Homo sapiens: one gene and its partners. The gene in region 7 interacts genetically with the main gene of each other region. Each region holds a gene or a part of one and is shown on either strand. Other genes may lie near its edges.

The links.
Region 1: changes in RABGEF1 (region 7) and RAB2A together harm fitness less than expected from each alone (positive genetic interaction), as found in Homo sapiens cells (one large-scale study listed by BioGRID).
Region 2: changes in RABGEF1 (region 7) and UBE2J1 together harm fitness less than expected from each alone (positive genetic interaction), as found in Homo sapiens cells (one large-scale study listed by BioGRID).
Region 3: changes in RABGEF1 (region 7) and SLC39A3 together harm fitness less than expected from each alone (positive genetic interaction), as found in Homo sapiens cells (one large-scale study listed by BioGRID).
Region 4: changes in RABGEF1 (region 7) and SLC33A1 together harm fitness more than expected from each alone (negative genetic interaction), as found in Homo sapiens cells (one large-scale study listed by BioGRID).
Region 5: changes in RABGEF1 (region 7) and DCAF7 together harm fitness less than expected from each alone (positive genetic interaction), as found in Homo sapiens cells (one large-scale study listed by BioGRID).
Region 6: changes in RABGEF1 (region 7) and EZH2 together harm fitness less than expected from each alone (positive genetic interaction), as found in Homo sapiens cells (one large-scale study listed by BioGRID).

Annotation. Positions count from the first base shown.
Region 1 is NC_000008.11:60,589,987-60,593,486, forward strand, and holds part of RAB2A (ras-related protein Rab-2A), read left to right. Parts: intron 1-1,871; coding exon 1,872-1,983; intron 1,984-3,500.
Region 2 is NC_000006.12:89,339,223-89,342,722, reverse strand, and holds part of UBE2J1 (ubiquitin-conjugating enzyme E2 J1), read left to right. Parts: intron 1-267; coding exon 268-399; intron 400-3,500. UniProt on the Homo sapiens protein: Catalyzes the covalent attachment of ubiquitin to other proteins. Functions in the selective degradation of misfolded membrane proteins from the endoplasmic reticulum (ERAD) and is essential for cells to recover from ER stress.
Region 3 is NC_000019.10:2,734,521-2,737,017, forward strand, and holds part of SLC39A3 (zinc transporter ZIP3), read right to left. Parts: coding exon of another isoform or gene 2,420-2,497; exon of another isoform or gene 6-2,419; intron 1-5. UniProt on the Homo sapiens protein: Transporter for the divalent cation Zn(2+). Mediates the influx of Zn(2+) into cells from extracellular space. Controls Zn(2+) accumulation into dentate gyrus granule cells in the hippocampus.
Region 4 is NC_000003.12:155,823,428-155,826,927, forward strand, and holds part of SLC33A1 (acetyl-coenzyme A transporter 1), read right to left. Parts: 3' UTR 1-3,500. UniProt on the Homo sapiens protein: Acetyl-CoA transporter that mediates active acetyl-CoA import through the endoplasmic reticulum (ER) membrane into the ER lumen where specific ER-based acetyl-CoA:lysine acetyltransferases are responsible for the acetylation of ER-based protein substrates, such as BACE1.
Region 5 is NC_000017.11:63,556,977-63,560,476, reverse strand, and holds part of DCAF7 (DDB1- and CUL4-associated factor 7), read right to left. Parts: intron 1-3,500. UniProt on the Homo sapiens protein: Involved in craniofacial development. Acts upstream of the EDN1 pathway and is required for formation of the upper jaw equivalent, the palatoquadrate. The activity required for EDN1 pathway function differs between the first and second arches.
Region 6 is NC_000007.14:148,809,088-148,811,291, forward strand, and holds part of EZH2 (histone-lysine N-methyltransferase EZH2), read right to left. Parts: intron 1,328-2,204; coding exon 1,246-1,327; intron 304-1,245; coding exon 223-303; intron 69-222; coding exon 1-68. UniProt on the Homo sapiens protein: Polycomb group (PcG) protein. Catalytic subunit of the PRC2/EED-EZH2 complex, which methylates 'Lys-9' (H3K9me) and 'Lys-27' (H3K27me) of histone H3, leading to transcriptional repression of the affected target gene.
Region 7 is NC_000007.14:66,792,733-66,796,232, forward strand, and holds part of RABGEF1 (rab5 GDP/GTP exchange factor), read left to right. Parts: intron 1-2,778; coding exon 2,779-2,860; intron 2,861-3,500. UniProt on the Homo sapiens protein: Rab effector protein acting as linker between gamma-adaptin, RAB4A or RAB5A. Involved in endocytic membrane fusion and membrane trafficking of recycling endosomes. Stimulates nucleotide exchange on RAB5A. Can act as a ubiquitin ligase.

The DNA of each region.
Region 1 (3,500 bases), on a different chromosome or scaffold from region 7:
AGTCTCACTCTGTCGCCCAGGCTGGAGTGCAGTGGCGCGATCTCTGCTCACTGCAACCTCCGCCTCCCAGGTTCAAGCAATTCTCCCGCCTCAGTCTCCTGAGTAGCTGGGATTACAGGCACCCACCATCATACCCAGCTAATTTTTGTATTTTTGTAGAGACGGGGTTTCACCATGTTGGCCAGGCTGGTCTTGAACTCCTAACCTGAGGTGATCCACCCGCCTTGCCTCCCAAAGTGCCGTAATTACAGGTGTGAGCCACCGCACCCGGCCTATTGTTTCTTTTTTTAAAAAAAAATTCTGATTATTTCCTACTGAGTGATTTTTACAATTCATTGAGTCATGACACAGTTTGAAAAATCCTACCCAGGCTTAACGCAGTGTCTCAGTCCTGTAGTCCTAGCAATTGGGAAGGCCAAAGTGGGAGGATCACTTGAGTCCTGGAGTTCAAGACCAGCGTGAGCAACATAGTGAGACTTTGTCTCTGAAAAAATTAAAAAAAAAAAACTGCCCTGGAAAAGCCTTGGCACGTGTATACACAAATATATATATATATTTTATATATATATGTAAAATACATATATTTTAATATATGTATTTTATATATATATAATACATATATATATAATGCTTATTGTAACATTGTTTGTAATAATGAAAAATTATAAATAACTTTGCCTTATAGAGAATTTAAGTTGTATTGCATTCATTCAGTAGACTGTAATTCACCAGTTTAAAAACAAACTAGATCTGCATGTATTATATGGATAAATTTGAAAAACATAGTGTTGACCAAAGTTAACAAGTTGTAAAACAGTAGCTACATCTGAATTTTTAAAGACATGAAAAAGAAATACTATTTATGGTTATAAACATGAGGATAAATGCAAAAACATGCATGAGAATGAAAACACCAAATTTAGGTAGTGGTTACCTTTAGGGTAAGAGGGAGGAGAGTGGGATCAGAGACACACAGGTGGTGATTCTGCTGTTGCTGATTTTATTTCTTAAAGGGAAAGAAACCTGAAATCTGGCAAATAATATGTCAAGGCTAGCTGGAAGTATGTGGACATTATATTATACATCTTTTTTCATGTATAAACATGTAATAATAAATAATATATAAAAAGTAATAAATATAATAATAAAGTTTTTTAACTTTAAAAATAAAACACGCTTTAAAAGCAACTGCTACCTCCCCTCCCCCCCACTAATAAAATTCTAGTATGATAAAAATGAATACCCTGCTTTCATTGGAAATTTCTAGCTTACACTTTCTCTCTCACTCCGTTTCTCCTTTTCTGTCTCTCTCTACTCCTTCTCCCTCCCTCCCTCCCTCTCTCTCTCTGTCTATATCAATTTTGCTTTAAGAGGAAACTGGGAATTAAACAAACTGGGATCAATGATGTAATGTATCTTTAGTACTTTGGATTTTCTAAACAATTTCCTGTAGTTTCTGAGAGTTGTATTTTAATCACATTCATAGAAACTCAGTCAGTCTGGCCAATGGAGGAGAATAGTATAGTCCTGCTCTTTCAAATTATGTTAAGCAAAATGGCTTTCTTCTCTGGGAATGCACTGTACTCAAAGATATAAGGTATTAGACTAGAGGCTCCCTTAAGTTACGGCTAGTTCTAACGTTCTAAAGCTCTAACACAGAATCTTTCTTCTGTTGGATTGTTAGTTCTTTGAAACTAGACAGTGTGTTCTAAATACTAACCCTCATAATACCCTGAATAATACAGTTAGTATGTTAAAAATTAATTAAAAGAATGGTCATCACAACTTTGAATTCCATGGTACACTTTCCACAAATGCTTCTGTTTGTACCATGTTGATTAGTAATGTGACCCTTTCTTTCCCATGTTTAGTGATTTAGAATCTAGAAGAGAAGTAAAAAAAGAAGAAGGTGAAGCTTTTGCACGAGAACATGGACTCATCTTCATGGAAACGTCTGCTAAGACTGCTTCCAATGTAGAAGAGGTAAATAAGAGGCCCTTTAAAATCTTCATCTTTATACTTAATAGAAATGTTTTATATATCTTCATTTTACTTATTATTTAAGTTTTTAGTCGGATGGTCTTTGAACATCATAAAGTAGGAAAGTTTCTTCCCTTTGAAATCCCTTGTAACATTCACCTTCTGTCAGACTCTTAAATCATATTGAGCCTTCTAAAGCCTGAATGTTTTCTTACATTTTTGTACGTATTTTCACTCCCTCCCTTTTTCTAAACAATTTCCTATAGTTTCTGAGAGTTATATTTTAATCACATTCATAGAAAGTCAGTCTGGCCAATGGAGGAGAATAGTGTAGTCCTATTCTTTCAAATTATGTTGAGCAAAATGGCTTCTCTGGGAACCCACTGTACTCAAAGATATAAGGTATTGGACTTCTTCGTGTTGCATGGTAGGGAAATCTTTTTTGTGTTGCATGGGAGGGAAACAAGGAACCACACTAATGAAATTTGGAAATGTTTCAAGACAGCAGAACGTTTGTAGCTATTTATATCCACTTCTGCTTATTTTTTTAATTTTATTTATTTTTTTAACTGTCAATATATTACCACATCACCACTTCTGCTTAAAGTATTCTATTATTGCTGTGTAACATTTTACAAAGCATGAGAATTCTGTTTCATCTATTGATGAAATTTGTATTATTTCAGTTATTTCCATTGATGAACCTGAACTATTGGAACTTTTCTGAACACAGTGTATTCTTTTATGCTCTATGTGTTTGTGTTTGGAGGTAGTATGTATATACATATTATAAATAGATGATTACGTAGTTGATCCTTTCTAAGGTAAATGTATTACTATACTGTTATTTTATAAAAAGAGGTAATGAAGCTAAGAAAAGTAGTAGTTTATCCAAAGTAATACTTAGTTCCCGATTTCTAGATAAGAACAGCTTATAAGAGCAACTACAGAAAGTAGTTCTAAAAAACAAATGAGTTAAGAATCACTGCCGTAAGGATAACAGAGGTCAGGGTCCTGGGCAACAGCTAGCATGTGCCTTCAATGTAGTAAGCAGTCAGTAAATATTTATTAAGAATGATACTTGGAGCTCTTCTGATTAACCCTTGAACCTAAAAATTGACTACAGTAATTCTACAGCATTGGTATTTTCACCGAAGAATTCTTTCTTAGGTAAAATATTATACAGTCATGTGTTGCTTGACAAAGGAGATACATTCTGAGAAATATGTCACCAGGTGATTTCATCGTCACGTGACCATCATAGAGTGTACTTACATAAGCCTAGATGGCATAGCCTACTACTGCACCTACTACACACTTCCCTTAGTAGACCTTGGTGCCAGAGGAATGACACAGTGATGATTTCCCTTGGTTTTCTTTTTGCCACATACCCGAGACTGGGTGCTAGAGAAACAGGCAACCTAGAAAGGTCAACAGGCACAGAAAAAGAAAGTCTTCTAGCCAGAGAACCAGGAAATAGGCAGGTCAGAACAGTGTTCGCAAGCCAGAACACTCTTAGA
Region 2 (3,500 bases), on a different chromosome or scaffold from region 7:
ATGAATATATAACAACACTCAGAAATTTTTAATGTGTTTATTATAAAATATTTTAGCTCAATGGAACATGAAAGCTAGATTAAATAGCTTTTACTTATAAATTTAATTTATCACTTATAGTCTCGAGACATCTCATGCATTAGAAACTATACTAGCAATAATATAAAGCATTTAATTTTTCTTGCTTGGTAATATTTCTAATATTCAGATAAAATGATCAAACTTTTCAATATTATTAATTCCTTGTGGATTATTGTTTTTGTTCAGGATAACCTTTTTGAATGGCACTTCACGGTTAGAGGGCCCCCAGACTCCGATTTTGATGGAGGAGTTTATCACGGGCGGATAGTACTGCCACCAGAGTATCCCATGAAACCACCAAGCATTATTCTCCTAACGGTAAGAATTTTGGATTTTTAGAGTGCTTGTGGCTTCACTCTTCCTGGTAGCTGCAAAATATAGTAAGCAAATCATTTTCATTAAGAAATAATAGAACAGTATAATTTTGCTTTTGGGGTCCAGGCCCTGGGACTACAATTTTTTTCCTCCAAAATAATTCCTAGGAAGCTGATGCATCTGAGAAGTAAAAATGATACAACTGAATGCATAAATGTCATATCATGGTTGTTAGGATTCAATGAATTAATATATGCCAAGTGCTGGGCATACACATCTGGCACTTCATAAGTACTCACTAAAGGGTAGCTAATGTTATTGTACCTTGTAATCATATTGTCTCCTTTAACTTCCCACCTTTCTTACACTCTCTTCCTCAGTTTTCTCATCTTTACAATGAGAATAATGATACCTACCTCATTGAGTTTATGTGGGATGAAAAGTATCAAGATCTTATTGTATAGCTCTTAGAATAGAGCCTGACACAGAATACTCAATAAGTGTTAGCATTATTATTACTGTTTATATCTCAGATTTTCTCTCTTTCTCTCCAAATTTACACATCTTTTCTTCATGTGAAGGAAAACTTTTTTTTTTTTTTAAGAGACACGGTCTTTCTCTGTTGCCCAGGCTGGAGCGCAGTAGCACGATCATAGCTCACTGTAGCCTCAAACTCCTGGGCTCAAGCTATCCTCCCACCTCAGCCTCCTGAGTAGCTGGGACTATAGGCACATGCCACTGCACCCAGCTAATTAAAAAGTTTTTTGGTAGAGACATGGTCTCATTGGTCTTGAACTACTGGCCTCAGGCAGTCCTCCCATCTCAGCCTCCCAAAGTGCTAGGATGACAGGTGTCACCATCATACCTGGCCAAGGAAAACTATTGATCTAATTCCTCTTTAATTGTTAAGCTTTTCTTCTCTCATTTCCTTTAACTATGTTTAATTATCCCCTAACCTTGAAAAAAGCAAAAACAAACACAAAAACCATTCCCTGTATCTGTTATCACTTTAAGCTGTGCCTATTTTTCTCTTTGGTAACCTCCAAGGCATCCTTTCCGTAGTTTGGCCTGCTGCAGTCCACCTTCCACACATAGTGCCCTGTTGAAACATGAAACTACACCAATCTCAGAGACCAGTTTGAGAAATCTCACTGCTTCTCCTCAGCCTTCATCCTGTTCTCAGTTAAACATCTTACCCACACGGAGTAGCAAATGGTGAAACAACAGGTATTCATCAATAAATACCAAATTAGGCCGGGCGCGGTGGCTCACGCCTGTAATCCCAGCACTTTGGGAGGCCGAGGCGGGTGGATCATGAGGTCAGGAGATCGAGACCATCCTGGCTAACAAGGTGAAACCCCGTCTCTACTAAAAATACAAAAAATTAGCCGGGCGCGGTGGCGGGCGCCTGTAGTCCCAGCTACTCGGGAGGCTGAGGCAGGAGAATGGCGTGAACCCGGGAAGCGGAGCTTGCAGTGAGCCGAGATTGCGCCACTGCAGTCCGCAGTCCAGCCTGGGCGACAGAGCGAGACTCCATCTCAAAAAAAAAAAACATAAATAAATAAATAAATAAATAAATAAATACCAAATTAATGCTGCTTTTACCTCTATTTTGTATAACAGAGAGAACATTTGTTTAAGAGCCAATAGGCCTAGATTCTGACTGGTGCTCTTTCCATTACACTATGGGTGGGTTACACAATGTCTTTAAAATTGTTTTCTCATCAGTCAAAATGAATGTTGTGTTTGGTAATTGTAATCACACCATAAAGTACCTGACATATAGAAGCTGCTTAATAAGTATTAGCTGATATAGAGAACTGCTAATGCTGGCAGTAGAGTTGGAGCAGGGTCCTGGAGACACTCTACTGTGTCAGGAGTCATTTTATTTAGTTGCTAGATCATGGGGAGAGCTAAGTGGTCTTCGGGGAGGGAGGGGCTGGTGCATGGGGAGACTGGTGGTGGTGGAGGACAGTAGTTAGCAGCAGCTCTTTACCAACAAATACAGGTATATTTCAATAGTTAGCCAATGGTATGGTCATACTAACCACACTGGCTGAGAATCAGCCCTGATTTTCAACATTACACTCTTTCTGGTTCACTTCTTTTTTGAAAAGTCTTCTCCAACTTTCATTCAATAAGTATTTATTTATCCTTTCATTCATCACTCCTCTGAAAATCACACCTCTCTCAGAGCCTTTCTCCCCATGTCTTTCCTCACTAACATCTAGTTAGGTGATACTGAGTCCTTAGGTTTCGTCCTGGCCTCTTGAATGTCTTCTCTTTTAGATTCTTTTTTTTTTTTTAACTTGAGATAGGGTCTCACTCTGTCACCCAGGCTGGAGTCCAATAGCATGATCACAGCTCACTGCAGCCTTGATGTCCCACACTCAAATGATCCTCCCACGTCAGCCTCCTGAGTAGCTGAGACTATAGTCACACATACCACGCTTGGCTAAATTTTTTTTATTTTTATTTTTTGTAGAGACAGGGTTTCACTTTGTTGCCCAGGCTGGTCTCAAACTCCTGGCCTCAAGTGACCTTCCTACCTTAGCCTCCCAAGTGCTGGGATTACAGACATGAGTCACCATGCCTGGCCTCTTTTAGATTCTTAACTGAGCCTAGCTCCATACTAGGCACAGGGTAGGACATTAGTAAATCCTCTCCCCTCCCCTCCCCTCCCCCACTCCTTCCCTCCTCCCCTTCCCCCTCCCCTCTCCTTCCCCCCTCTCCTTCCCCCTTCCCCTCCCCACCCCTCTTCCCTCCCCATCCCTTCCCCCCTCCCCTCCCCACTTCCCTCCCTTCCCCCCTCCCCTCCCCTCTCTCCTCCCCCATCCCCTCTCCTCCCCCCTCCCCCCCTCTCCTCCCCTCCTCTCCTCTTTTTTTTTCTTTTCTTGGGGACAGGGTCTCACACTGTCACCCAGGCTGGCATGCAGCAATGCAGTCATAGTTCACTGTGGCCTTGAACTCCTGGGCTCAAGTAATCTTCCTGTCTTAGCCTCCCAAGTAGGTAGGACTAGAGGCACATGCCACCACTCCTGGCTAATTTTCTTTCTTTTCTTTTTTTGGTGACAGTGTCTCACTAAGTTGCTCAAGCTGGCCTT
Region 3 (2,497 bases), on a different chromosome or scaffold from region 7:
GGCAATGTCTGGAAACATTTTTTATTTTCACAACTCGGGTAGGGGGAAGGTGCTGACATTCGGGGCTGGATTGTTCTCTGGGACGGGGCCGTCCTGGGCACTGCAGGGTGCTGCTGAGCAGTGTCTCTGGCCTCCACCCACTCCAGGCCAGGAGCACCCCCCATCGTGACAACCACAATGTCCCCAGGCATCGCCCAGTGTTCCCTGGGGGCAGTTCACGCTGGGTGAGCCTCTGCTGCAGCAGAAGGCTGTGTTTCCACGGAGAAGCCACTTAACTCCCTCACTGACCACCGGCTGGAGGCCTCATGCATGCCTCGCTTGAGGACAAGCTCATGAGGAACTCTAGCTACTCCCAAGAGACAGACGTTGATCAGGAGAGATGAGGCAGATGCACGGGAGCTGTGAACCAGGCACCATTTTCCAGGGGTGACTGAGAGCCTGGCCCTGCAGTGGGTGAGGCTGGGGGCTCGGGAGTAGGGACCTCATCCGCCTGACCAGCCCGAGGACAGGAGAACGGCGGGAAAGGTTTGGGTGCCATGAGAAGGCCACTGTGATGAGGGGGAGGGAAGAGCAAGCTCCCCGCAGTCGCCCAGGCCTGCAGTCAGAGGGTGACGGGGGTGACACCATGACCATGGGGGAAAAGGGGGGCTGGCAGTGGCCTCTGCGATGCAGGAGATGTCAGAGATGACCAAGATCTCCATCCTCGCAGTGCAGATGTCAGTCTTCACACACCGCGTAACGAACGAATGCAGACTCAGCCACGCGGAACAGCAGGAATGCGGTGTCTCGGCTCTGAACGGTGGAAATCCAGGTGCGGGCTAGCTGGGCCCTACGCTCCAGGTCTCGCAGGGTGTCATCAGGGCTGAGATCTCACTGACACCCAGGGTCCTCTTCCAAGCTCACTGGAGGTCGGAAGAGTCCACCTCCTGGTGGCTGTGGACTGAGGCCCCGTGTCCTGGCTGGCTGTTGGCGGGGATGGCTCTTGGCACCGAGAGGCTGCCCTCGGGTCCTCGCTTCATGCCCTTCTCCTGGCACACCCTGGCTTTTTGCTTCTCCAAGGCCAGCAGGAGGGTGAGTGGCTCACCTGATTAGGCCAGGCCCACCCCCTCCCTTTTGATGAACTCAGCGCTAACCGATCTGGGGCGGTCATCACAGCTGCAACATCCCCTCTGCTGGGATTCTGACATAATGGCAGGAGTGACACGCACGGCAGTCCCAGCCCTACCCACACTCGAGGGGAGGGAAGAGCATGGGGCGTGCGGAGCAGGGGCTGGAAGCTCAGGGAGCCACCCTGGAACTCTACTCTGCCACACTAACAGGCTCAGATGATTTAATCCCAGACAACAGCCCTTCTCCTCCTTTCTGGACACTAGGCACGAGGAAAAGCAGGGCCAGGGGTTGGGGGATAAGCTTAGGGCTTCCATGCTTTCGTTGGGAGGAAGAACAGGGGGTCCTCATATCTCCACCAAGTATGTAACCAACACAAATTCAATGTCACATCTGGCACTGGCCCAGAGAGAGGAAGCCACTCACCCAGGGTCACCCAGCAAGCATGGCCAGGGCTGGTCACACTGTGGCCTGACAGGGGACCCACACTCTGGGCTGCTGATATGGGGGAGCTCAAGGAACAGGTCAGCAGAGGATGATGCTGTCAGGAGTTGGGGTGGACAGACTCCAAGATGGCCCCAGAAGCCCCTGCCTCTTGACAGCCATACCCTGTGAGGTCCTGGCCACTTGAGTATGGGAAGGACTTGAACTTGCTTCTAACCAGCAGGACACTGGGGCAGAGGGGAAGGGATACCCTGTCACCTCTGCATGACATGGGACTGTGCCCTCTGTCTTACACAGAGTCATGGCCATCTTCTCCATTTGCTGATGAAGGAACTGATCATGCTGGGGAGGTCCACGTGGCCAGGCTCTGAGGGCTGCCCCAGCCAACAGACACTGACAAACAGACACCTTCGGTCTGACAACCAATGAGGAACTGAACCTGGCTTACAACCACATGAGCTTAGAGGCCGACCCATCCCCGGTTGAACGTTGAGATGAGACCACAGCCCAGGAGACACTGTGACTGCTGCCTTGTGAGCTCCTGAAGCAGTGCCCAGACCCCTGACTCACAGAAACTGTGAGATGATAAACGTCTGTAGTCCTAAGGTGCTCAGTTTGCTATAATTTGTTACGCAACAGTAGCTGACTGATATAGGAACCGAAGAGAGGCCATGCTTTCCAGCTTCAGGACAGAGTGTGCCCTACCTAGGTGGGTAGTCTGGTCTGATTATCAGGTGACAACCGACAAGTCCACCTGTTGGGAATCCCAGGTCTGGTCCAAACCCCTTGTTTGGCCGGTAGAGCACAGAGACAGAAAGTAACCAGTTCACAATCACACAGCAAATTCACTTCCTACTTTCCGTCACCCTTACAGCATCAAGGCCTTCACTGAACTTGGCATCAGTGTTGAAAATGCATCAGAGTCCCTTGGCCATAAGGTGCCAAG
Region 4 (3,500 bases), on a different chromosome or scaffold from region 7:
AGGAGGCCAAGGCGGGAAGATCACCTAAGGTCAGGAGTTTGAGATCAGCCTGGCCAACATGGCAAAACCCCATCTCGACCAAAAATACAAAAATAAGCTGGGCGTAGTAGTGCACATCTGTAGTCCCAGCTACTTGGAAGGCTGAGGCAGGAGAATCGCTTGAACCCGGGAGGCGGAGGTTGCAGTGAGCAGCTTGGGCAACAGAGCCAGACTCCATCTCAAAAAAATAATAAAATAAAATAAAGTAAAAAGAACATGGTCTGCAGTAGGTGTTTTTGTTTTGTTTTTGTTTGTTTGTTTTTGAAACGGAGTCTCGCTCTGTCGCCCAGGCTGAAGTGTAGTGGCGCAATCTCAACTCACTGCAAGCTCCGCCTCCCGGGCTCAAGCAATTCTCCTGCCTCAGCCTCCCTAGTAGCTGGGATTACAGTCGTGTGCCACCCTATGCCTGGCTAATTTTTGTATTTTTAGTAGAGACGGCGTTTCACCATGTTGGCCAGGCTGGTCTCAAACTCCTGACCTCAAGTGATCCACCCACCTCGGCCTCCCAAAGGGTTGGGATTACAGGCGTGAGCCACCATGCCCAGCCTGCAATAGGTATTCAAAATCCTCCCTAAGAGAAAATAATTGTGCCTCGCTATCTACCAAAGACATTGGTTAAAAAAAAGTCTCAGCAGTTACAATGTACAGTATCACCTTCCCTTCTGTAACCAAAATACTTATTAAATATATGAATGCTAGTTATCAGATTATTTTAAAAGTTTATTTTCTTTCTCTAATAATAAGGTAAAATACATTTTGGAAATCTGCATGGAATGTTCCCAACAAGTTATTTCATTTTAGCAGGGTCTATGACATACAGCTTTAGTCATTCTTTCAATTACTTGGAACCACAGAATTCTCCAAAATACAAAAATTAAATTTTCAGCTTTTATATCAAATAATGGTCTCAACCATTTAATACAAAGCAACATACTTTCTCAGGTTTCTGTTAATAAGGCAAAATAAAAGTCACTCAGAAAAAAAAGGTTAAATCATGAAGATTTCTCTTTTGTAGGATATAATTCACCCCTGTGGTTTCTCTTCTACCATTAATGTCTTATCTACTCTAATTCCTTCAAAGTTTCAAGTTCAATACAGTATAACATATGCAGAGATTTTATAGTTTTTATCATAGATTTTTTTTTTCAACATTGTTTTCAGGATGTTTTAAACACTTTCACAACTATTACCTCAGATTTGTGATTATGGCTTATAGTACGGTCTACTTTCAAAACCATGATTTTTGGATCATGGCCCATCCAAGATTTTACTCTGTTCAGAAAAAGAAAAAAAATTACATATCCAGAGTTTCACAAGCAATTCAGGGGTTTTTCCCACAGACATCAAAAACCTTGCAATAAAGGGGTGAAATCCAAAAATTACTTTCGATTTCAAAGGTTTAATATTTTTAAAAAATTGAGAAATCTATTTAAGGTGTTGAATAAACTTTTTATGACTTATCAGGCAAAATTAAAATATTTATCATGGGCAGGGCACGGTGGCTTACACCTGTAATCCCAGCATTTTGAGAGGTCAAGGCTGGACGACTGCTTGAAGCTATGAGATTGGGACTAGCCTGGAAAATATAGCGGACCCCACCTCTATAAAAAATTATTATTTTTTATTAGCTGGGCATAGTGCTGTGTGCCTGTAGTCCTAGCTACCAGAGAGGCTGAGGTGGAAAGATCCTTTTTTGTTGTTGAGACAGGGTCTCACTCTGTCACCCAGACAGGAATGTAGTACCACAATCACTGCTTACTGAAGCCTTGACCTCCTGGGTTCAAGTAACCCTCCCGCCTAAGCTTCCCAAGTAGCTGGGACTACTGGTGTGTACCACCATGCCTGGATAATTAAAAAAAAAAAAGAAGTCATAAAGACAGGTTCTTATTATATTGACCAGGTTGGTCTTGAACTCTTGACCTCAAGTGATCCTCCTGCCTTGGCCTCCTAAAGTGTTGTGATTACAGGTGTGAGCCACAGCATCCAGCCTAAGGAAGATCCCTTGAGCCTAGGAATTTGAGGCTGCAGTGAGCTATGATTGCATCACTGTACTCCAGCTTGGGCAAAAGTGAGACCATGTCTCTAAAAAATAATAATAAAATAAAATAAAGTATTTACAATGGAAGGAATCTGTGGTGTTACTTTTAGGTAATCTCAGAAGAACTTTTCAAACTCAGATGTATATATGCGGCAACCAATGTGCATATGGAGATACTGACATAGAGAGAAAAATGTTCAATCTAATATTAGCCAGTAAACATATGATGCATTAACTGGAGGAGTTAAAAGTCCATACTTGAAGGTACTGTTTAATTTATCAGGATCAATCAATCAAGAAAAACACCCACAACATAAAAACAGGGTGGTATATTTTAGTACTACTGATTTATAATAAACAGATCCTCAGATTTAGGCAGATCATTTTTAAATGCCATTAGTGATCAATGTATGCAACACAGTTGCACATAGCTATTAACAAGTTATTTTGACATGCATTACATACATGTATTCAAATTAACTATAATTTTTTGTGCTTATTTCTAGAGCAAATTAATTAAATGGCTTTCACCTTAAAGGCTTAAAATGTTTTAAAACTTCAAGTCATTAAAGATGTACTGACATTAAAACTATGTTTGAAGGCTGGGCGCAGTGGCTCATGCCTGTAATCCCAGCACTTTGGGAGGCCGAGGCGGGTGGATCACTTGAGGTCAGGAGTTCAAGACCAGCCTGGCCAACATGGTGAAACCCCATCTCTACTAAAAATACAAAAATTAGCCGGGTGTGGTGGTGTGCGCCTGTAGTCCCAGCTACTCAGAGGACTGGGGCAGGAGAATCACTTGAACCCAGGAGGCAGAGGTTGCAGTGAGCCGAGATTGCACCACTGTACTCCAGCCTGGGTGACAAAGTGAGACTCTGTCTCAATTAAAAAAAAAAAAAACTATGTTTGAAAGTATATATAATTTGTAATAATATACACGGGAAGAAATAAAAGGTTATTATGGCAATCTGAGTTTCTTAATCCAAAAATTAAAAATCAAAACACATTTCATATGTAAGAGTTAAGTGGTTTTTTTTCTTTATTCAAGTAATCATTTAGACTCTAATACATGATAATGGACAACCATGTGACAAAGTACTGTAGTGTATGGTTTGGTGTAGCCTCCTTGCCTCTAGGATGGGATTTTTTCCAGGTGATTCTTCAGGATCTGACATCGATGCCCAACACAGGCTTTCCAATGGCAATGCATGAGTTCTAGAGGTCACTGCCCCATCTTTCTTCAGGTGCTGTGTGCCATTTTCTCCCACCCATTTTATCCTCCATTACTTATAAAAACCCCACTCTAAAATTCAACCTATGTTATAAAATTAACAAAATCAGGAGTTAGTACACATTTTTCCACAATGATAAAATTAAGACTCATAATGTACTATCTTGTTTCGTCTAACTTTTGGAGGATTTA
Region 5 (3,500 bases), on a different chromosome or scaffold from region 7:
TATCAGTATATGAAAAGCTAGCTCATTCTTTTAACAGCTGCATGGAGGTAGCATAATTTATTCAACAATTTCCCTAATAATAATATTTTCATATTTTTCTTTTACAAATAATGCTAAAATGAATATCCTTGCACTTTAGTCATTTCAACCACATGAGTATAGCTGTAGGATGAATTACCACTAGCGGAACTACCAGGTGGAAAATAATGCCAATTTAAATTTTGATAGCAACTGCATGGGAAAGCTACACATACGTGTATACACACACACACAGTAGATTACCACGGTTTTTTATTTTTCCTAATCTAGCTGAAACTCCATTTTTTTTTTTTCTTATGAGGTTCAGTTCTTCATACGTTCAAGAATCATTTACATATCCTTTCTGGAAACTCTTCCTATCTATTTCTCTTTTTCTACTGGGTGACTGGTCTCCTGGTGATTTGCAGATCTTTATATGCAGTTATTAAGGGATTTGTTCTTTGTCTAGGACATTACATGTATTTTTTCAGTTTGTCACTTATCTTTTGACTTTGGTTTTGTTACAGAGATTTTATTTTTATATAGTTTACTTCTACTTTCATGGCTTTCTCACACCAAGATTCTCCCGTGTTTTACAGTTATATGTTTACATTCTTCCATTTATCTGGAATTCTGGTACAAGGTTTTTTTTTCTTTGAGACGGAGTCCCACTCTGTTGCCCAGGCTGGAGTGCAATGGTGCCATCTCGGCTCACTGCAATCTCTGCCTCCTGGGTTCAAGCGATTCTCCTGCCTCAGCTTCCCGAGTAGCTGGGATTACAGGCACCTGCCACCATGCCCGGCTACTTTTTGCATTTTTAGTAGAGACAGGGTTTCACCATGCTGACCAGACTGGTCTCAAACTCCTGACCTTAGGCGATCCACCCGCCTCAGCCTCCCAAAGTGCTGGGATTACAGGTGTGAGCCACTGCACCCGGCTGGTACAAAGCTTAAGGTAGAGATCCAATTTTTTTTTCTGGTTTCAATACCAATTATTAAAAATATATATATATATATATACACACACATATATATATACGTATATATATACATATATATACATATATATATACATATATATACACATATATATATACATACATATATATACGTATATATATGTATGTATATATATATACATATATATATATATATGGGTCTCACACTGTCACCCGGGCTGGAGTGCAATGATGCAATCTTGGCTCACTGCAACCTCCACCTCCTGGGTTCAAGTGATTCTCCTGCCTCAGCCTCCCAAGTAGCGAGGATTACAGGTGCCCACCACCATGCCTGGCTAATTTTTCGTATTTTTAGTAGAGACGGGCTTTCACTATGTTGGCCAGGCTGGTCTCGAACTCCTGACCTCGTGATCTGCCTGCCCCCGCCTCCCAAAGTGCTGGAATTACAGGCGTGAGCCACTGTGCCTGGCCTTAAAAATATTTTTTCTTCATTTCCTATCACCTTTAGCACAGACTACATTTCTTTTTGTATTCTGAGTTCATTTCTAGACTCTGTTTATACATCAGTTCTTAGAGTATCAAACGATCTTATTTATTATATCTTTGCATTATGTTTTAATATCCATCATTAGTCCACCTTTTCAGAAGTTTTTTGACAATGTGTGCATGTTTGTAAAATTTATCTGTAGAAACAATCAGTTTGCCTGGTTCTAAAAAACCATTATTAAAAATCTGGAGTATTTTTGGCCAGGTATGGTGGCCTATGCCTGTAACCCCAGCACTTTGGGTTGGGCAGGCAGGAGGACTGTTTGAGGTCAGGAGCTCAAGACCAGTCTGAGCAACATAGTGAGACACCTACTGATTAAGCCCAGGAGTTTGAGGTTACAGTGAGTTATACTCACACTACTGCACTCTAGCCTGGGCGACAGAGCGAGACCCTGTCTCCAGAAAAAACAACTGTGGTATTTTAAACAGGGATTACATTAAGTTTAGGGACACTGACATCTTTAGGATACCAAGCTTTACTATACAAGAAAAGAGAATACCTTCCCATTTTTCGAGTATTGTTTTGTGTTCCCCAGCATTATTATTTCCACATAAACCTTACATATGCCTAAGTATATCCCCAAGTATTTATAGCAGCACAATCTACAGTATTTGTACATTCCTAGACATTGCTCCATGGCCTTCTGTCATCAAATGTAGCTAGCCTAATTTCTTTTCCCCTCTTAAAGAGGACTTGATCATTTTGTCTGGGTGTCCAAATAATTCTTTCTTCATCCTTAAAACATAGAAATGTTCCTAGGGATGCCAGGCTCTGTGCCAGGCCTGTAGTCCCAGCACTTTGGGAGACTGAGGTTAGTGGATCACTTGAGCCCACAGTTTGAGACCAGCCTGGGCAACATGGCAAAACCCTGCCTCTACAAGAAATACAAAAATTAGCGGGCGTGGTGGTGTGCACCTGTAGTCTCAGCTACTCGGGAGGCAGAGGTGGGACAATCGATTAAGCCTAGGAGGTCAAGAGTGCAGTGAGCTGGGATCATGCCTCTGCACCCAGCCTGGGCAACAGAGTGAGACACTGTCTCAAAACAAAACAAAACACACGAAAAATAAGATAAATTTTTTAAAAAAGAAATTTTCCTAGGAAATGTTTCAGTGCCAACTGTTCAGTGCCAATTTTTCTTATCACTTCATGCCAATTTGAACTTATCACTTCAAATCTTTGGCAAGTTCAAATCATGCCAATTTGAACTTATCACTTCAAATCTTTACTTCTAAGTTCTTCTTTAACCATATATTTGAGTTTGTTTCATTTCTTTGGTCCTCTTCTTGAGGGACACCAATTATACTTACGTCAGATCTCTTTTACTTTCTGCATCTATTATGTTCTCATTGTTTTCTTCAGTTTCATTTTTCAATCTGTCCTCCCTAACCTTTACTGTTTTCAGCACTGTGTGTTCATCTTTATTCTGTTTCTTTCTTTCTTTTTTTTTTTGACAGTCTCACTTCATCACCCAGGCTGGAGTACAGTGACATGATCTCGGCTCACTGCAACCTCCTCTTCCCAGGTTCAAGTAAGTCTCCTGCCTCAGTGTCCCAAGTAGCTGGGATTACAGGAGTGAACCACTGTGCCCAGCCTTTATTCTGTTTCCAATGTGGCTTTTAATCCTGTGATAATTTTAGTTTTCTCTTCCACTACTTTCCTGTGTGCTCTGCCAGCTGATGTTATATTTTCTCTTTGCCATGCCTTATTTTACCCAATCCTCTATATCTCTGCTTGAAGTTCTGTATTTTCTTAAGTTCTTTGAACTCACAGTGGTAGGACTGACAATTATTTTTCAACCAAGCTAAAGACATCTTTTTAGTATGGGTACTTTATCTGCCACTTATTTTCCATTTCCCCCCATCCTTTCTAATAGCATCTTTCTACAGCTATTGTGCTGATTCCATTTGTTTTGTTTTTTTGGTTTTGAGATGGCGGTCTCGCTCTGTCACCCCAGCGGGAGTTCAGTGGCAAGATCTT
Region 6 (2,204 bases), about 82 Mb from region 7:
CTCTTCGCCAGTCTGGATGGCTCTCTTGGCAAAAATACCTATCCTGTGATCACCGTTAACCATCATAACTGCAAAGAGACACACTGGTGTCAGTGAGCATGAAGACGGGCCACGGGGGGTTAACTGACTTGTTCACATAACAAACAACTATCCCAGAAGTATTCAAGTCCATCATCACAGGACTGAAAAGGGAGTTCCAATTCTCACGTCAAAGGTACCTACCTTTTGCATAGCAGTTTGGATTTACCGAATGATTTGCAAAACGAATTTTGTTACCCTTGCGGGTTGCATCCACCACAAAATCTAAAAAGAAAAAAGTAAGCACAGCCCAGTGAATAATTTCAGTTATAAGTAAACCAAGTTATTATGATTTTGTAAATGCAACTGGTTACAGTTCTTCAGGGTTTGCCTGCAAAAGCAAATAAATCAAGCAGCTTCATTCAGTAAGAAATGACATTTGGAAGAACACACTATTGTTCCAGGTTAAAATTAATCACCTATAATTCAAGATGGTTATCTGACTCAAAAGCTATTAATTATCAACTATAAACATACATTACTGAGCAAAACATAGCAAAAAAAAAAAAAAATCTGACAAAATTCTTCCAAACATCACGAATAGGCATTTTCACATTTAAAATTAGTTTTTTTCATTATAATGTCTATAAAGCATTCATAGAAAAAAACCTATTCTACTTGTTCCAACTAAGAGTTTCTCTGAATATCTTACATGTTAAGCCTACCTCCATTTTCACATAATCCCACCAGAAACATCCCTACACAGCCTTACATTCTACCCCAGAACATCAGCTATGAAAGCAGCTGCCTTTCCTCTCAGTCCTTTGAGAATATCCAGGGGAGTCTGGAAGATGGTTGCAAATGCAGTGCTCCTCCCCTCCTTCCCCGCTCAGAGGCACTGACTGGAGGAGGTGTGCTGAGCTGCCTGAACACAAGAGGTGAGGTGAGCAGCAAGAGCACAACGTCCCCTTCACAGCCAGATGCTGGGATAGTGCCACCCACAGACAGCCGGGACTCCAGAGAGGCGGTTTCCTGCACATCTAGTCTATCTGCTCCCTGAGGAATTCCTTGCTCCAGTTCCTTTCAAGCAAGCAGCCCCCCATGCCTCTAAGGAGATCCTCCTTCTGGTCACCTCACTGACCTCTACCCTCGTTTCTGAACACTCGGCCGGCAGAAGGCTGCCACATGCAACTCAGGAACTCACTGCCTCCCAGCTCTGAAACATACCATTGTTCAAGTTGAACAGAAAGCTGCACATGTATTTATCATACACTTTCCCTCTTCTGTCAGCTTCATCTTGAGAAATAATCTAAAAAGAAAGACACAGGAGAAAATTCTTTTGGATAAAGGTGATCAAGCCTGACAGAACACACAAAAGCGCACAGAGTGAATACTGGACCTTCTGGAGAAAACGCAACAAAAAGGGTCACTACAGCCAAGTTCTCTTTCCCATTCGGTCTGCGCAGTAATAAAGAATAACTGTATACTAAGGACCCCAACTCAGAAATATTTCCACATCCTGAAGTAATTATCCTTGGAGAAAGTGAGGAACCAAAGTCTTTTTGCTGAGTTTTTTAAAAAAGCCGGCTGCAGTGGCTCACGCCTGTAATCCCAGCACTTTGGGAGGCCGAGGCGGGCAGATCACCTGGGCGCGGTGGCGCATGCCTGTAATCCCAGCTACTCGGGACACTGAGGCAGGAGAATCGCTTGAACCCGGGAGGCTGAGGTTGCGGTGAGCCAAAATCACGCCATTGCACTCCGGCCTGGGCAACAAGAGCGAAACTCTGTCTCAAAAAAAAAAAAAAAAAAAAAAAAAATTTGGGTGAGCTGGTTCCAAACTGAAGCTAGGCCTATGATTTTTCGGTAACACTGTCGACAATTTAAAAGGTGAATAACTAATGACGTTGTTGTTTCTAGGTCCTTATCAACTAGGTTGTGGATTAAGCAGGCCACTCTATGGTAAAGCTCTTGTTCTCCCTGTTGTCCCTAGACGAGAAAAACTAAATGTGGCTAGAACCAAGCAATCCTGTTTTGTTTTGCTTTTTTTCCCCTCTGAGACAGGGTCTCACTTTGTCGCCCAGGCCGGAGTGCAGTGGCACAAACATGGCTCACTGCAGCCTCAACCTCCCAGGCTCTTCCAGGCTCAAGCGATCTTCCTGCCTCAGCTCCCAAGTAGCTGGGACTAC
Region 7 (3,500 bases):
TATAAAGGGAGGAATGGTAATAAATGGCCACATTTATTCATTCAACCCATACTGAGCACTAACCCTGTGCCTGGCCTTGTTCTAGGCATGAGGATATGGTGGTGAACAGTGCCCTTGTGGAGCTAACATTTTAGTTGGGGAAATGGACAATAAGCAGATCTGTAACATAGTGTTAAGTCCTACAAGAATGGAAAGCAGGATGAGAGACAGTGGCAGGGGTGAGTTCTTTTACATTATGAAAGCAATACTGTACTGGAGCATAAACTGCAGTAGAAATAGAAAAGGAGTTTTCGGCATTGTATTGTAAAATTACAGGGGTTGTGCTGGGCTGGGGGAGGAGAATATGATCCCTTGACACCAGTAAGACAGGCCTCTCGGGTCTCTAAAAGGAGCTCAGAGAGTTTCTAGTTGGAAGCGAGCACTACAGGTTGAGTATCCCTTATCCGAGAGCCTTGGGACCAGAAGTGTTTCAGATTTTGGGGTTTTCCCAGATTTTGGAATATTTACACATATATAAGATAACTTGGGACTGGGACCCAAGTCCAAACACAGAATTCATTTGTTGAATATATGCCTTACATACATAGCCTGAAGGTAATTTTATACCACATTTTAAGCAGTTTTGTGCATGTAACAGTTTTGGCTGCTTTTTGACTCTAGCCCATCATCACATGAGGCCAGGTGTGGAATTTCCCACTTGTGGTGTCATGTCGACACTGACAAATTTGGGATTTTTGAGCATTTCAGATTTTTTATTTTTGGGTTAGGAATGCTCAAATCTGTAGTAATAATCACAAGAATGAATATAGTTTCTTCTAAGTTAAGTGCTAAAATTTGGTGCAAATGAAAGGTGTAAAACCATGTGTAAACTACCTAAAAAGATTGAATGGATAAGCTTTTGCATAAAATACTTGAAGTAGAAGGATAGATTTGAGCACTGCAGTGTGTGCATGTATATGGGTAACTAGTTGACAGTAACAAGGGCTGCAGTCAAGGTGATCACAAAGTGCCATGAGTGCTTGGCCATTTTTACTGAGGGAATGAGGTGACTGCTCCTGACCCCAAGTGTCCTGCCATCCTTTTAGAGTTAAGCCAGATGGTCAGACTGCTGTGGGCTTCCACAGGATGTATCGGCCCTTGGCGTGTGAGGTCAGTGGCCTGTGTAGATGAAGTCTGTGACAGCCCGTCCTGGGGGTTTGTTCTCGGCCTTATTCATGTTCTTCTACTGTGACATCCTTATGAGAACCGTTGGGAGAAATTTTTGATTTTGGTGTCAGAATTTCACCCGAATAATTTGTTTGCTTTCATCTTTTGAACCCTGAATTACATAACTGTTTTCATCCTAGTGATGGTTGCTAAAAAATTTAGTTAGAGACAGATGTATGGGCTGACTCTTGACTAATTTAGACATCTTCCAGGAAAACATTTCTGTCTTGTCATCTGTGGCTCTGCTTTAGGTCTCTCTCCATGTTTAATTTTTTTTTTTTTTTTTTTTTTTTTACTTATTATTGTTAAAAAAATTTTTTAATTTCTTTCTTTCTCTTTCTTTCCTTTCTCTCCTTTCTCTCCCCTTTCTTTCTTTCCTCTTCTCTTTTCTTTTCTTTCTTGAGATGGGGTCTCACTATGTTGCCCAGGCTGGCCTCAAACTCCTAGGCTCAATCGATCCTCTAGCCTCAACCTCCCAGAGCACTGGGATTACAGTTATTTGTTATTCTTTTTATTTTCTAGTCTCTTGTGCTGAACTGCATTTATCTTTTAAATAGCCTTTAAATATTCTTTGGCAGAAAGTGAGAAACAAATACATATATTACACCTATAAAATCAGTAAAACCAAATAAAAATTATCAAGCCCAATGTTGTAAGGGCCATAGGGAAGTAAGTGCATACACGTGGTTAATGACAGTGTGCACTGAGTTTCTGAGGAGTGTGGCTAGCAATAGATACTTAGTGCTATAACATTGTTTATTCATATTAAGCGGTTAATGCCACTTTTGGAAATGTATGACAGAGAACCGAAAAGAAGATAGTCCTTACAAAATTATTTATACCTACAGTGCACAACAGTGAAAGAGGGGGAGCAACTCAAATGCACAGTGGTAGAGGAGAGTCGAAGAAGTCAGTTAATATAATGCAGTGTTATAAAGCCACCAGAAATGATTCAGTGGATTAGATAAATAGAAATGTACATAAAATATGTAAATTATCAAAACATGCATTAAATCTATTTAAGAATACGTAGATTTAGCAAAAAGAATGAGATGGTCATGGTGAGACCGCTAGGTGGGAAGGGGTCCCCGGAAAAACTCCAGCCAGCCTGCCCACCGGGGTGGAGTTTTGGGAAGTTTGCACCATTTGTAGCAGGGAGGAGCCTGGCCCCTCTTCTTTCTGTGTGGAGCCCAGGATTCTAGCTGCTGGCAGGAAGCACTCTAGCAGGGACTCTGGCCTTGTGAGTGTCTCGGATTCCCCCTTTTCTTCCTTTTCACCTAATAAAACCCTGTCTTACCCACCATTCAAACCGCCTGCGAGCCTAAATTTTTGTGGCTGTGAGACGGACAAGGATCCCGTCTTTAGCTGAACTAAGGAAAAGTCCGGCAACAATGGATATTGGAAATAATATTAATGGATAGGTTTTACTCTCCTGCAGGATTAATATAACCTGTGAGTACTTTTAGGCTTACTACCAGTACAAGGAATGGCTTTTGGAAAGTTCTTAGAATGTAGAGCTGTGCTTCTGCACTTTGTTCAGCTACAAGCAGCCTCTTTGTCTCTCTGTTTCAGGATCTAAGCATTGAAGAACAGTCAGAGTGTGCTCAGGATTTCTACCACAATGTGGCCGAAAGGATGCAAACTCGTGGGAAAGGTAACACTGTTAGCCATTGAGAGATTGCGGGTATTGCACAGGGATGACTGCTCAGTCTCTTAGCAATTTCTTTCTTTCTCTGATGGTCTGGCTGGTTTGTAGACTTCATCCTGTAACCTCATGGACATTCTGGGAACTGGTCTTATACTTAGCAGTGCCTTTGAACTGTACCATGCGTATCTTTCCAGGAGCAATTGGATAATTTATTGAGTAACATTTAATAACTCCATTGGGGCAGGGCTGGAGCTGACGAAAACATCTTAGGGCCTGGCTCAGTAGCTCATGCCTGTAATCCCAGCACTTTGGGAGGCTAAAGCAGGCGGATCACGTTAGGCCAGGAGTTCGAGACCAGCCTGGCCAACATGGTGAAACCCCGCCTCTATTAAAAATACAAAAAGTAGCCGGGTGTTGTGGTGCACCTCTTATCCCAGCTACTCGGGAGGCCGAGGCACAAGAATTGCTTGAACCCGGAAGGCGGAGGTTGCAGTGAGCTGAGACTGTGCCACTGCACTCCAGCCTGGGCAACAGATCGAGACTCTGTCTTCAAAAAAGAGAGAGAGAAAGAGAAAAACTTATTGGAAGGCTTTGCTAAATGAATTTTCCATCTTGGAATCACCATTTTGGTGAGTTATTGTATTAA